2 linked regions of the Homo sapiens genome follow. The protein of the gene in region 2 interacts with the protein of the main gene of each other region in a pairwise test. Each region holds a gene or a part of one and is shown on either strand. Other genes may lie near its edges.

What was found.
Region 1: the proteins of TCF7L2 (region 2) and UFSP1 interact in binary tests that used the Homo sapiens proteins (3 or more experiments, as listed by UniProt).

What each region holds. Positions count from the first base shown.
Region 1 is NC_000007.14:100,888,221-100,893,644, forward strand, and holds UFSP1 (ufm1-specific protease 1), read right to left. Parts: upstream 1,496-5,424; 5' UTR 1,280-1,495; coding exon 623-1,279; 3' UTR 501-622; downstream 1-500. Other genes in the region: SRRT (serrate RNA effector molecule homolog), read left to right, coding at 37-163, 254-329; ACHE (acetylcholinesterase), read right to left, coding at 1,994-2,115, 2,949-3,118, 4,114-4,598, 4,945-5,424.
Region 2 is NC_000010.11:112,946,023-112,953,635, reverse strand, and holds the start of TCF7L2 (transcription factor 7-like 2), read right to left. Parts: upstream 3,390-7,613; 5' UTR 2,880-3,389; coding exon 2,691-2,879; exon of another isoform or gene 2,629-2,690; intron 2,430-2,628; coding exon 2,363-2,429; intron 2,154-2,362; coding exon 2,029-2,153; intron 1,859-2,028; exon of another isoform or gene 1,294-1,858; intron 1-1,293. UniProt on the Homo sapiens protein: Participates in the Wnt signaling pathway and modulates MYC expression by binding to its promoter in a sequence-specific manner. Acts as a repressor in the absence of CTNNB1, and as activator in its presence.

The sequences.
Region 1 (5,424 bases), on a different chromosome or scaffold from region 2:
CATAGTTTTGCAACTCAACACTGATCTCTGTCATAGCTGGTGCTGTCCGCCCTGCAGTCCCCACAGGAGGCCCTCCATACCCCCATGCCCCGTATGGTGCTGGTCGAGGGAACTATGATGCCTTCCGAGGCCAGGGAGGTTATCCTGGGAAACCTCGCAACAGGTGAGGAGGGCAGACGCCCAAGCTTTGTTGCCGCCTGCAGACTCCCTTTTGGGAGCCCTCAGCTCTCATCCTGTACCTCTCACCTCACAGGATGGTTCGTGGAGACCCAAGGGCCATTGTGGAATATCGGGACCTGGATGCCCCAGACGATGTTGATTTCTTTTGAGCCGTCCCCCGTTCCTCAGTCCTGTATCATCCATACTTGTACTACCTTGTCCTATGAAGCTCTGAGAATTTTTTGTACGATCAGCCTTACTGCTAATAAAAGCACTTCCACAGGGCTCCTGACTCTCGTGTGTTACATAACTCCTCCATCCTTCCAGAGTAACTCCTGAGGTGTTGCTCAGCCCTGCCACTTTTATTATTGATGTCAAAAGCGCCAGGCTTTGCAGGGACACCAGTGGGAGGTACATAGGTGCGTGTCTGGGACCCGAGAATCTCAGTTCTGTAACTTCGTCCTCAGTCCAAGGTGCGCTGCTGCTGTTGGGAGCTAAGGCTGGTCAAGCACAGGTTGTAGAAGGAGTTGGGGTCAAAGGCTGCACTCACCTCTTGCCAGCCCACCCACCCAGCAGCCTGTAGTTCACTGGGGCTTTTTGGAGTGCCCCAGTAGTGAGGGTCCAATACCAGGACATAGGCTTCCGTGCCTGACCCTACGCAGACTCCCAGCAAGGCCTTGGACCTGGCATCTGCGTCCCCCCCAACCATGACTGGGCCCCCACCCCCTGCGAAGTGCGAGTAAAGCCTCTCCAGCTCCCCGTGCAGCCCCACTCCCCGGGGTACGTGGCAGAGGCGTCCCTGGGGCCCTCCGAAGTGAGCGAGGCAGAGGCTGGCCTCCACGCAGCCGATCCAGTCCCGGGAGCCCCGGAAGCCGGGGGGCTTGTCGCCCATGTCCTCCAGGGCCGCCTGTACGGCGGCCAGTCCAGGTACGCCCGCGGGCTGGCCCTCTGGCCACGAGCACAGCGTCTGCAGAGTGCGGTAGCCGCAGCCCCAGCCGCGGTCGTCCAGGCCGTCGCAGCCGTAGTGGTAGTAGAGGTAGTGGCCCGAGAGCAGCGCCAGGCGGACAGGGCCGCGGCTCGGCGGGGACAGGCCCACGTGGACGTCCCTCAGCGGCTCCAGGGCGGTGGGCGGGAGCGGAGGTCCCAGGCCAGGCACAGCGTCCTCCTAGCGGCGCGGAGCGACCTCAGGCTCCAACACTTCCTTTCGGCTCCGGGTCTTGGGCCAGCTGCCGCAGGACCGGCGCGCAGACTGGGGACGCGCTCCCCGGGCCTCGTTGATCACCGCAGGCCGCAATAGGCAGCCACCGACCGGCACCGACCGAGGAGCTCCCACAATGCTCCGCCGCGCCCCGCCCCGCCCCGCCCCTCCCCTCCCCTCCCCTCCCCTCCCCTCCCCTCTCCTCCCCTCCGCCGTGCCAGCTAGCCTGCCTGCGGGCCTCATTACGCAGGCGCGAGCTCCGCCCGGCAGGGCAGGGCTAGGGGTTGGCCTTTGCCTTGCGCCCGCCTCGGAGCTCGCCTGTTTCTTGCCCTCCAGCCCCGCTCCTGCATAGACTCGGCCCCCGTGATTCCGGCGTTCTGCCTCTACCCCTGGCTCCCTAGTCGCGCACACTCCCGTGGCTGTAACAGTTTATTGGCAGCCCAGAGGGGCGAAGGCACCGCGGGGGAGGGAGCTCAGCCTGAGACATGCAGAGGACCGGGAGCCCCGGGGGACGTCGGGGTGGGGTGGGGATGGGCAGAGTCTGGGGCTCGTCTGTGTTATAGCCCAGCCCTGAAATAAATAGTATATACAGCTAGGGGGCCGGGCGGAGCGGAGGACATGGGGGTCCCGCCGGGGTCACAGGTCTGAGCAGCGATCCTGCTTGCTGTAGTGGTCGAACTGGTTCTTCCAGTGCACCATGTAGGAGCTCCAGCGGTGGAACTCGGCCTTCCACTGGCGCTCCGCCTCGTCGAGCGTGTCTGCGGCCAGGGCGCCCAGCGAGGCGGGAGGGGAGGACGGCACGAGGAAGGTCGGGGATCGGACATTTGGGCGGGTTGAAGGGGGGGTATGAGTGCAGGGAGGACGCACGGAGAAATGCAGGCGACCACGTGGGACGGTGGCAAGAGGATCAGGAGAATGTGCGAAAGACGAGAGGGAGGATGAGGGCAGAGGCGGGGCCGGAGAAGGACAGCAGGAAGGAGAGAGGAGGAGAAAAGAATGACCGGAAGACGGGAACAGAGGGGACAGGAGGGGGAGGTTGGGGGAAAAAGAAGAGACAGAAATGGTTGACCGTTATAGCCCCAATGGGGGGTGCTACCCCGTCCGGGGCCTCCCACTTCCCCCCAATGTCAGGCTCAGGTTCCAAAAGATAATTTTATAAAAGAATACTGGCTTTTCCATTTCCATTCAAACAACAAAGGCGTGGGGGTCCCTGAGAAGGGTGGGAGGCACGGCCCCCTCCTCCTGCCCTGTCCAGTGTGAGTCTCTCGGTTTGAGGAGGAAGGGAGCACTAGGTCTGAGATCCCTGAGTGGGGCCCTTCCCCACGGTCCGACCACTCATTAGAGGAGGGGCCCCTGTGGCCGTAGGGGAAGAGGCCGTGTTCACAGCCGCCGGAGGTGGGAGAGGAAGAGGAGGAGAAGCTGGTGGAGGAGGAGGAGGGGCAGGGGGAGGCCGGGCCTCGGAGCAGCCTCCCCATGGGTGAAGCCTGGGCAGGTGCTGGGAGCCTCCGAGGCTAGGGGGAGAAGAGAGGGGTTACACCTGGCGGGCTCCCACTCCCCTCCTCCCAGCCGCTGCCCGCTGGCCCCTGCATACCGGTGGCGCTGAGCAATTTGGGGAGGAAGCGGTTCCAGAAGGCGCAGGCCTGGGCGCGCAGCCCCCGCCGCACCTCCAGCGGCCGCAGGTCCAGACTAACGTACTGCTGAGCCCCCGCCGTGTACGGGGGCCATTGTGGGGCCTTGGGGTCTCGGGGCTCATTGGGATCCCTGCGGAAGGAAGGGAAGGCTCAGTCCAGACGGGCAGTGGGAGGAGGTGGCCCCCAACTCCACGGGATCCCGGACTCTTCAGCTCAGCGGAGAGCCCCAGAGAACCCGTCCCCTCCCTCCCACCACTTTCTCCAATGTGCGCGGTCATTGGGGTCTTCCCTTCCTCAAGCGCTCCGTCTCCTTCCGTTTCCCTCAGCTTTTCTGTTCCATCTTTGTTTCTCTCACTAAAAAAATGGCTAGGATGTCTTGAGACTTTCCTAAATAACCAGGACGGGTCCTATGTCTACAAACATCACATTTTTTAACAACACCCATCCAATGCTAGATTTCATTGTCCTCTTCTCGATCCAGGTAAACTGGTGTGTGTGTGAGAGAATGTGTCACTGCTAGTGAATCATCACTGGTTTGACTTAATCCAGCTCCAACTCCTTTGTCTTGGTCTCCCTTTTTTTTTTTTTTTTTTTTTTCCAGAGATAGGGCCACTCAGGCTGGAGTGCAGTGGTGCCATCATAGCTCACTGCAGCCTCAACCTCCCAGGCTCAAGCAATCCTCCTGCCTCACCTTCCCAAGTAGCTGGGACTAGAGGCACGAGCCACCGTGCCTGGCTAAGTTTTGTATTTTTTTTCTTTTTAAGAGTCGGGGTCTTGTTATGTTGTCCAGTCTGGTCTCAAACTCCTGGCCTCAGGGGATCCTCCCACCTTGGCCTCCCAAAGGGCTGGAATTACAGGGGTGAGCCACTGTGCCCCGCCCCCTCCATGTCTACCTCGTCTCCTCCTCACTTTCCTTTGCCTCTGTCTCTGCAAGACCCCCTCTGCCTTCTCTGTCTCCTTTCTTTTTCTCTCCCCTTTTATCTACTTTGTGAGCATATCCCTCTCTGGCTGTTCTATCCTGCCCCTGTCCCACCCGTCCTTTCTGTCTCCGTGTGTCTGCCTTTGTGTGTCCTCCCGCCCCCGACTCCTGTCCTCCCCAGCCTTCTCTCCCTCTGCACTGCTGACCCTGTGCGGGCAAAGTTGGCCCAGTATCGCATCAGTCGCTGGGCGAAGATTTTCTCCTCTGCCGTGTAGTTTCGAGAGGGGTCCAGGGGGATCCCAAAGATGAACTCGATCTCGTAGCCGTGGGGCACCCCCATCCACAGGGGCCAGGAGAGCGTGGAAGCACGGTGTTCAAAGACGTAGGCGTAGACCCGGGCACCCTGGGCAGCCAGTCGCCCAGCCAGCTGGGCCACGGGGCACACGACATTGTGGTCGCCCACCACATCGCTCAGGGCCTCCCTCAGGCGTGCCGGGTCCTCGGGATGCAGCCAGTCTGTGTAATGCAGGACCACAGCCTCGGCTGCCAGGTCACTTACCTGGGGAACCCCGACCCGCACCCCGGCCAGGAACTCGGCCCGGCTGATGAGAGACTCGTTGTCTTTGCTGAAGCCTGGGGCCCCGTAAACCAGAAAATACGAGCCCTCATCCTTCACCACACCCACCAGCACCTGGGGGTGAGGGAGAGGGGGGTGGGATGGAGCGACAGGCACAGACAGACAAGTAGACAGAAACAGATGGACAGACAAAGAGCCAGAGAGATGAACAGTTACAGACCCGGAACCATGGACAGAGAGAGGACGAGATCAGGGGAGGGATGCAGAGAAAGAGAAAATAGACCCATGGTGGCTTTCCTGTCTGCCCTGCTGACCACCCTGGGATCTGAGCCCTCAGGGAGGACTTCTGGGACTTCTGGGAATGGGCCTGGAGAAGCCCTCATGCCTGGGTCCCTGCAGGGAGGGGAGGGACCGTTGGGACCCAGAGGAGCCAGCTTCACGCCAGCTAGCCACTAGTTACCTGCAGGCCGTGGAAGTCTCCCGCGTTGATGAGGGCCTCTGGGGTGTCACTGAGGAAGTCTCCATCTACCACAGGCACGAAGGAGAACCGGAAGACGCTTTCTTGAGGCAGCACGTGCCATTCGTGGTTCACCAGGACCTGCGCTGGTCGTGTCCGAAGGCAGGCTACCAGCTCTGTGTCATTCCCACCAGTGCCGCCTGGAGGACAGCCCACAAGGTGGGCCAGCTGCGTGGCCCTGCGACGGGCCTCTCCCATGCCCACCGTGGCCCAGGGTCCATTGGGGGCACCGCTCTGCAGCACGGCCCTGTGGAACAGGCCCCGGCTGGGCGGGGACAGCAGGTGCATGCCCACCGAGGCGGCTCCCGCGCTCTCCCCAAACAGCGTCACTGATGTCGGGTCACCCCCGAAGGCTGCCACGTTCTCCTGCACCCACTGCAGGGCCAGCCTCTGATCCAGGAGACCCACATTGCCCGGGGCCTC
Region 2 (7,613 bases):
GCGAGTTTAAAAAGAGTCAAGAAAGCTAGCAAGCCCGCCATCAAAGCTCAATATTCAGATGGTTAAGTGGATTTTAAAATAATACCAGGGAGGTTTCCATCGGAAGGGGGAGGGGAGGAGAGGCAGAAATTCTCAGGGATTCTTTGGAATGTTGCTTGGTCCGGTTTATTGGTAGGCGAACACTGCGATTCTGAGCCGAACGGTCCCGTTTAAGATGCCCCACAAGCTCCCAAGAAAAATACAAAGTAAGCGAACTGTGCTTCCCCTACAGCTGCAAGCCCAGAGCGCGGCCCCTGCAGCCTGGTGGAACTGGCCCTGGAGAAGGGGGTTGAGCCGAACCGCTCTCCCAGCTTCCCAAGCATGTCTGGGCGCCGGGCAGGGGGGGAATAATTATTTCTCTTCCCTAGCCATAAAAAAAATGACCGGTCTAGCATGCCCTTGCCATTTTGCCAGGGCCCAAAAAAGCAAGTCAAACCTGATAGTTAATATTTTAATGCTTAAAAACACTTGTAGATCTGATCGACTCCCGTCCGGCAAGCCCTCGGCCATTAGCACCGAATCCATGGCTGCTGAACAGTGGGTGCATTATTTCAAATTGCTATCTAGAGTTACCGAAAAAGAAAAAACAAAAGTCGTGTGTGTAAATAAGGGGTAGGGGACCAAACTGGAGAAGGTGTAAAATGACAATACCGGGAAGCCGGGCACAAATGCGTCTTGCGTCCAGGGATTCGTAATCCAGGCTTCTTAGAAGAGGGAGGGAGGGATGAGGAGGAGGGGGTTCAGGGTGAGGGCAGGGGGCACAGGCCGGTGGGGGAGGGGATGAGCCGTATTAACAAATGTCAGGGTTGGGCGCGGGACCGACCCTGCAGGAAGCGCCCCCCGAGCCCGGCACCCCGCGCTGCCCTGGGGCCCCCAAAGTTGGGTGGCCGGCGATCGGCGGCCCACTCCCTTGAAGGAGAGGCGCCCCAGCCTCCCTCGGCCCCCGCACCTCCTTGAGCCCGCACACCCTGGTCTCTGGCCCCCCTGGGGCCCACGACGGGCCTACACGGAAGCTGGCGAGCGCCGACCCCGCCATACATCCCAAGGCGCCAAAATTCCCTAGAAATACACAAGTCCGCTTGGAGGAGTCCATTCCGGCTGCACACAAACCAAGAATCCGGGCCGCAGGGGCCTCCCCGCCCCACTCAGCCCTGCTGCCCTGCGCGGCCCGGGAGAGCCCGCAGCCAGTGCGCCGGGCAGCGGAGCCCGCCACGGCGCCCAGGGCGCTCGCGGCCCTGCGGGTTGCCAAAGAAAAGGACGCCTCAGAGCCCCCAAGTTTGCGGTGGGACCAATCTGGGAAGTGTGACCTTCCAGGGGAAGGGGGAAGGAGGGCCGAGAGCCAGCAATCTCCACTAGAAAGCTAAATACATAGTCGCCCAAAAGAGAAAGCCAAGGAGCCTCTCCAGGGCCCCGGGCTCTGCGCGCTAGCCAGTTCTCAAGTCCAATGCCTGGAGGAAACCCACTCTCTACCCCGCGCATCGGGCGCAGCACAGTCAGTCACTCGTGGCCCGCAGCGGCAGCCAAGGGGTTAACCGGGGAAAGCCCAAGACGCCACAGAAGAGGGAAGGAAGAGAAGGAGAGAGAGGGAGAGAGAGCAAAGGAAGAGCCACAGAGTCATCTTCCCAGGGTGAAGAAACAAACACCACCACCAAAGGGGGAGGGGGAACCAGAACGCAAAGGAAAGTTCTTCGGATTCCCCCCCCTCCCCACCAACAAAGCCCTGCTTGGACAGAGAGGTCTCCCCAACATCACGAGGCAGCAAACTGAAAGCAAGAACGTGGCGAAGTGCAAACAAATCCAGTCCACAAAAGGCAGAAAAGTTTGGAGAGTTTCGGGCCTCCTGGGCCACGAGCGGGGGAGGGGAGGGAGGGAGGGGAGGAGGCGGGGAGGGGGAGGCGGGGAGGGGGCAGGGCAGGGGCCGCATGCGGGGCCCGGCGGGCGGCGCGGGCGGGCGGGCAGCGGGCGGGGGCCGGGCGCGGAGGCACTTACGGTTCGGGCGGTGGGCGAGAGCGATCCGTTGGGGAGGTAGGGGCTCGTCAGGTCGGGGATCATGATGAAGGGGTAGCCGGGATACGGTGGCCCCTTAAAGAGCCCTCCATCTTGCCTCTTGGCCGCTAACATGGCGGGGCGGCGAGGGGACAGCGGCGGCCGCGCGGAGCGGGAGAGAGTGAGGAGAAACTTTTTAGAAAGTGCCCCGAGGGGCCGGGCGCCCCGACCGGGCCGGCGCAGGGCCAGGCCGAGCCGGGCGCGGGGCCGGGGCGCGCGGGGCGGCCGGCCCGGGGGGCGGCTCCGGGCGGCTGCGGGGCGCGCGGGGCGTACTCACCTTCTTCCAAACTTTCCCGGGATTTGTCTCGGAAACTTTCGGAGCGAGGCGGAGGCCGTCTTTCCGCCTTCCCAGAGGGGTGGAGGTGGGGAGGGCGAGGGGCAAACGCCACGCAGAAGGGGGAGAAGGGGGAGAAAAAGAATCGGCGAGGTCGAGGGGGGGGTAGAAAAAAACAGGGTTACAAGTTTTTGCAATGGTGGCACCGTACGCACACGCCGCCCGCCGGGCCCCGCCGCCGCCCCCAGCCCCGATTTCTCCCCTTTCAGCAACATTTGCCAAGCCCAGGAAACAGATAAAAAACCCCACCAGCCCGAGGGGCTTTTCCTACCTCGGAATCGGAGGAGCTGTTTTGATTCGTTTCTGATTCATTGACTAGAGACGATTTGACATCAGCTAAATCCCTCTCTGCCGAGGAGTTTTCGGAGCTCTTCTCCTCCTGTTCGCCCTCGTCTTTGAAGGAAATCAGTTCGTCGTTGGCGCCTAGGTCATCCCCTCCACCGCCGTTCAGCTGCGGCATTTTTTTTTCACCCACCAGCAGCAATTTTGGAAGAAAAATGAAGGAGGAAGAAAAGCCAAAAAAAATCACCCCCAAAAAGTTTTGCCCCCCCAAAAAATATTGCAAGAAAAAGACGAGTCCAAGGTGAACTTTTTTCTGCTTGGGGGTCTTTTTCTCCTGGGGAGGGGAAAAGAGGGAGGAGGGGAGGGGAAGGGGGGGGAGATCTTCTGCACGCGTGAGTTTGGGTTTCTTTTTTCTCTCGTTCCCAAGGATCCGATCAATGTGCAAAAAAATAATAAATAAAAAAGGGGGGTAAAAAAAAAAAAAACACCAACAACAACAAGAAGTCAGATATAAAGAGCAAAGGGGGGGGGAAGCCGAAGATACAGGAGGTGCTCGTGCCGCTCGGATTTGAGTGAGTTGAAGTTAGACTGAGAGCTTTTCAGTTCAAAGGCGGCGCTGATTGACAGATAGAAAAAGGGGGATCGAAATCCGGAGGAACGGAGTAGTCTGGGAGCGGAGATTATTGACAGGGCGAGAGGAACACACTGCCTTAATGAGATGCCGGAGGGCGGGGCCGGCCCAGTGACGTGTGCATAAATAAACAGCCGGGGTGGGCGGGGCGGGGGCGGCTAACAATGATCCTTTCGGGCGCCGGGAGAGGGAGGAGGGAAAGAAGGAGGAAGAGAGGGGCGGGGAAGCCGGGGGGAGACGGAGGGAGGAGTGTGCAGGGGGAGCGGCCTGCGCGGAGTGTGTGCGAGCCCGGGATTCTGGGCGAGGGTGCAGGGACTTGCTCCGGGAGGGGGCGGTTTCAGAAAGACAATGCGGGGTGGGAGAGGAGGAGAAGGGGGTGGCGACCAAGTCAGGAATCCGAGCCGAGGAAGGCGGAAGGAAAGCCCACTTGGGGGGCGGGGATGGGGAGAGGCCCAAAACAGTGCACTTTAGAAATATTAGAAATAAGTCTTAAGGGAGGGGGAAAAGGAAGGGTAGTATTTGAGAAAGTGGTGGCTGGGGGAGGGGGTGGGGGGGTGCTTGGTGGTTAATTCAGCAGTGAAATCAGCCACCCTTAGACGGGATGCGACAAAAGTGGTCAAAAGGAAAGATCAACCCTCCACTTTCAGAGAGCTTGGGGAAGTGAAGGGGCTGGTCAAAGTTCCTGGTCATCTACAATGAAAGAAACTATTAACCCATGAGGCCTCCCTCCTCCCTTTTTTGTTTATTAGTAGTGAATCATTTCATGAAATGTTAAGTCCCACTAGGATGGATATGCCAAAACGACTTTTTATGCAAAAAACAAATGCTAAATGTCAGAAACATTAAAAGTATCCTTAAGGAAAAATATATGATTCTTTTAAATGTAGAGTGGTGTTTTGCTTTTTTTTTTTTTTTTTTAACTGACGTTGGAGGTAGTAGGAAATGAGCTAGAGTCAAAGTCCTTTTTGACTTAGGAGGTGAAAAGTTTGGGCGTTAACACCGTCAGGGAAAATAAAACTGAAAGTTCACCAACCCCTGGGATCAGTTGGGCTACAGTGTTTCTCGAAGGGGGTCTGAAATGAAATCCCCGAAAGACTGACCAAAATAATCAAGATGTAGGTGGCTCTGGCAGGAAATTGCTAACCAAACCGATGCTAGAAGACCTTCGGGAGAAGATGGGAAACCTGGGGCTTGAGGCAGGTATTTGTTGACTTTTAGGTATTAGAGGAGGAGCAGACTGATTTGCTACAAAATGGGGAATGGAATTATGTTAAAGAGGAAAGACCCAGCTCCCAAAACACAATGTTCCTGGGTGATAGAGCAAGAAAATTCATTTTTGCAAATACCCAGTAAGAAGTAGACTGGACACTACAACATGAAAAAGAGAAAAAAGAAAAAAATAAATCAGTAGGATTTAGCAAATTGCCTCTTAGGAGTAGTATTAGTCTAGAGTCCAGGATGTACTGTTGTCCCACCCTTCCCTGAAAAAGCTCACCTGCACTTCAGCTGGCCCATCAGCACCGAGGTTTCCAAAAGAAAGCAAATTTGCCATGTAATATTTAGAGAGTTTGGGGTTTCAGCAAAACTGTTTTATAGGCTAAAGTCTCAGAAAGACTACTAAAAATAATGATACCGAGATTGACAAGGCCAACGAATTCCCCTGCACTGGAAAAAAATCACAACCACATTTGCACACTAAAGAATAAGATGCAGGCAAAATAAAAATGGGTTGGGGGGGAGGCAGAGGAGAATCACTGTAACTCCCAACTTTGATATTAATCAGAATATCAGAAGTAGAGTGAGAAGGAGCCTGAAAAGAAGTAAAACAAATGTGTACATTTAATCAGACAGGATTGCATAGGATACAAAGCACAGGGCTAATTAGTCTCAGCAGGTAGGACTAACCTTCAGACTTCATAAATAAATAAGGCAGGTGCAGTGTCTAAGAGGGAGAGTGGAGACAGAAAGGGGATTATTTCAAGACACCAAGTGAAAACATGAAGAATGAAATGCTTCACTGTTAAATCCATGTACAAATGGACTTAACAGTTTCCTTTTTTAGGTCTTTTACTTGGTTGCCTTTAGATTTACACATTTAGCGAAATGACCATAGCTTTATACACTTGCTAATTGTCACCTGTATACTTGATGTGCCTAAGTCTGTCTATATGCAGCGTAGACTTTACTAAGGCTCATTTTAGGGACTTAGTTACTTAAACTGGAACACATTTATAGGAACTCAATTTTATGGCAATTTCTTTGTCCTGTGTGGTAGTTTTTTGTTTTTTATTTTTTTAATCAAACCCTGGTCTGAATTAAGTTGGATAATGAGGTCTTCTATGTTCTTTATAGTACTACCTGTATAATAAAATCTCAGGAATATACTGAATTGAAATTTTAAAGAATGTACTTACTGATTTTACTATACTGGCCTGCATTTTTATCATATGTAAATACTAAGGGCTTTGTTCCCATGATTAGTAACTTTATCCATTTTGGCATATCCTTATTTTTCTCATTCAAAGGGAACTCTTTTGAATCTCTCCTTCCTTAAATCTCTGATTTAATTAAGCAATTAAAAAGTTATTCTGTGATAGTGCATGTCCCACATTTAATTTCGTTGCCTGGTGCTGTACAAAGGCTTGAGTAGACCAGCAAGATCTCAGAGGGGCCAGATCCCTGATGCTCTGCAAGTCCCTCAGGTGATGCCTGAATTGAGGAGCGGGGGGGAATGGCAGAATTGGCACTGCAGTAGCCAGGCAGCAAGGTATTGAAAAATACCTTGAATAGCCGGGCGCAGTGGCTCATGCCTGTAATCCCAGCACTTTGGGAGGCCAAGGCGGGCGGATCACGAGGTCAGGAGATCGAGACCATCCTGGCTAACACGGTGAAACACCGTCTCTACTAAAAATACAAAAAATTAACCAGGCGTGGTGGCGGGTGCCTGTAGTCCCAGCTACTCGGAAGGCTGAGGCAGGAGAATGGCGTGAACCCGGGAGGCGGAGCTTGCAGTGAGCCGTGATGGCGCCACTGCACTCCAGCCTGGCCAACAGAGCGAGACTCCGTCTCAAAAAAAAAAAAAAAAAGAAAAGAAAAAAAAAGAAAAATACCTTGAATACTATTTGAAAAAAAAGGTAGGCTGGCCCACAATGTGAATGTGTAATTTATAGATTTGGTGTGAAATTTTAAACACAGTTGACTTGGGTCCAAGTGCTGAGGCAACTTCTCTGTGGATACTGATGACTCCTGGTTTATAGGACCAAGCGTTCTGCCCAAATGGCAGAGATTTGAAAAACACAGGAAACCAGACCAGTTCTGACTTTAGCCTGAGCCAGGGGATTTTGCCACCATGGGCTCTGCATGTTGGGAAATGGGTGGGAGGGGGGAGAAGCTGTGCCCTCATCCCTTGGAATCCAGTTAGGTCTCTGCATATTTTGGGAGGAAGGCAGGGAGAAGCTGGGCCCTCACCCCTTGGAGTCCATTCCTGGCGCCAGTCCAGGTCCTGAACTGTAAGTAGCTGTCCCTAGGCCTCTCTGACTTTGACCTCGCCCTCTTCATCCACTGCCCTTCTGCTGCTTCTCTTCTGTTTTCTCCTCTCCTTCAGCCCTCCCTTGATTAAATCCTTCTCTTTGGATACATGCTGATACCTTAAAACTTAAGTGAGTAGTGTTACCTCTTCCAGAGGTGCTTCCTTGTTTATCCCTATCAATGAGCATGAAAAGGAGGTTTCTGTTTACACAAATCACCTTTTAAGTGTTGGTTCCCCACGTGGGAGATATGGTGAAGTGTTAGGTGCCCATTGAAATACAGGAATGTGCCTGACAGGGGACTGCAGAAATAGGCCTGCCACAGGCTGTGTCACCCACGGCCCCTTCGTCTTGTCTCACCTGGTGGATGAGGTGGTTGGAATGGGCTTTTTTAAGTTGCCTGTTAATATTTAAAAGTCCGTGATTCCATCGTTTCACCACACGCCCCAGTTATGGCTCAGAGATTCACGCACACCAGCAAAGAAGACAAACCATATTGAAAGCTTGGCTCTGGAATTTGAGAAAAACAAGGCTAGTCTGTCAGATTTACCCGAAGTGGGGAATACATGTTGACAACCATATTCAGCTCCCCCAGTCACTCGGCAAGATTCTGCTAAGTTACCCTTGACAGTGATATGTACATGTGTGGGTGTGTGTATTTGTGTTCCTGTGTGATTTTTCTTTAAAGATCTGGGCTCCAAGATGGATGATCTGTTACCCCACTGTGTTGGACTTATCTATGCCGGGAGTGTGC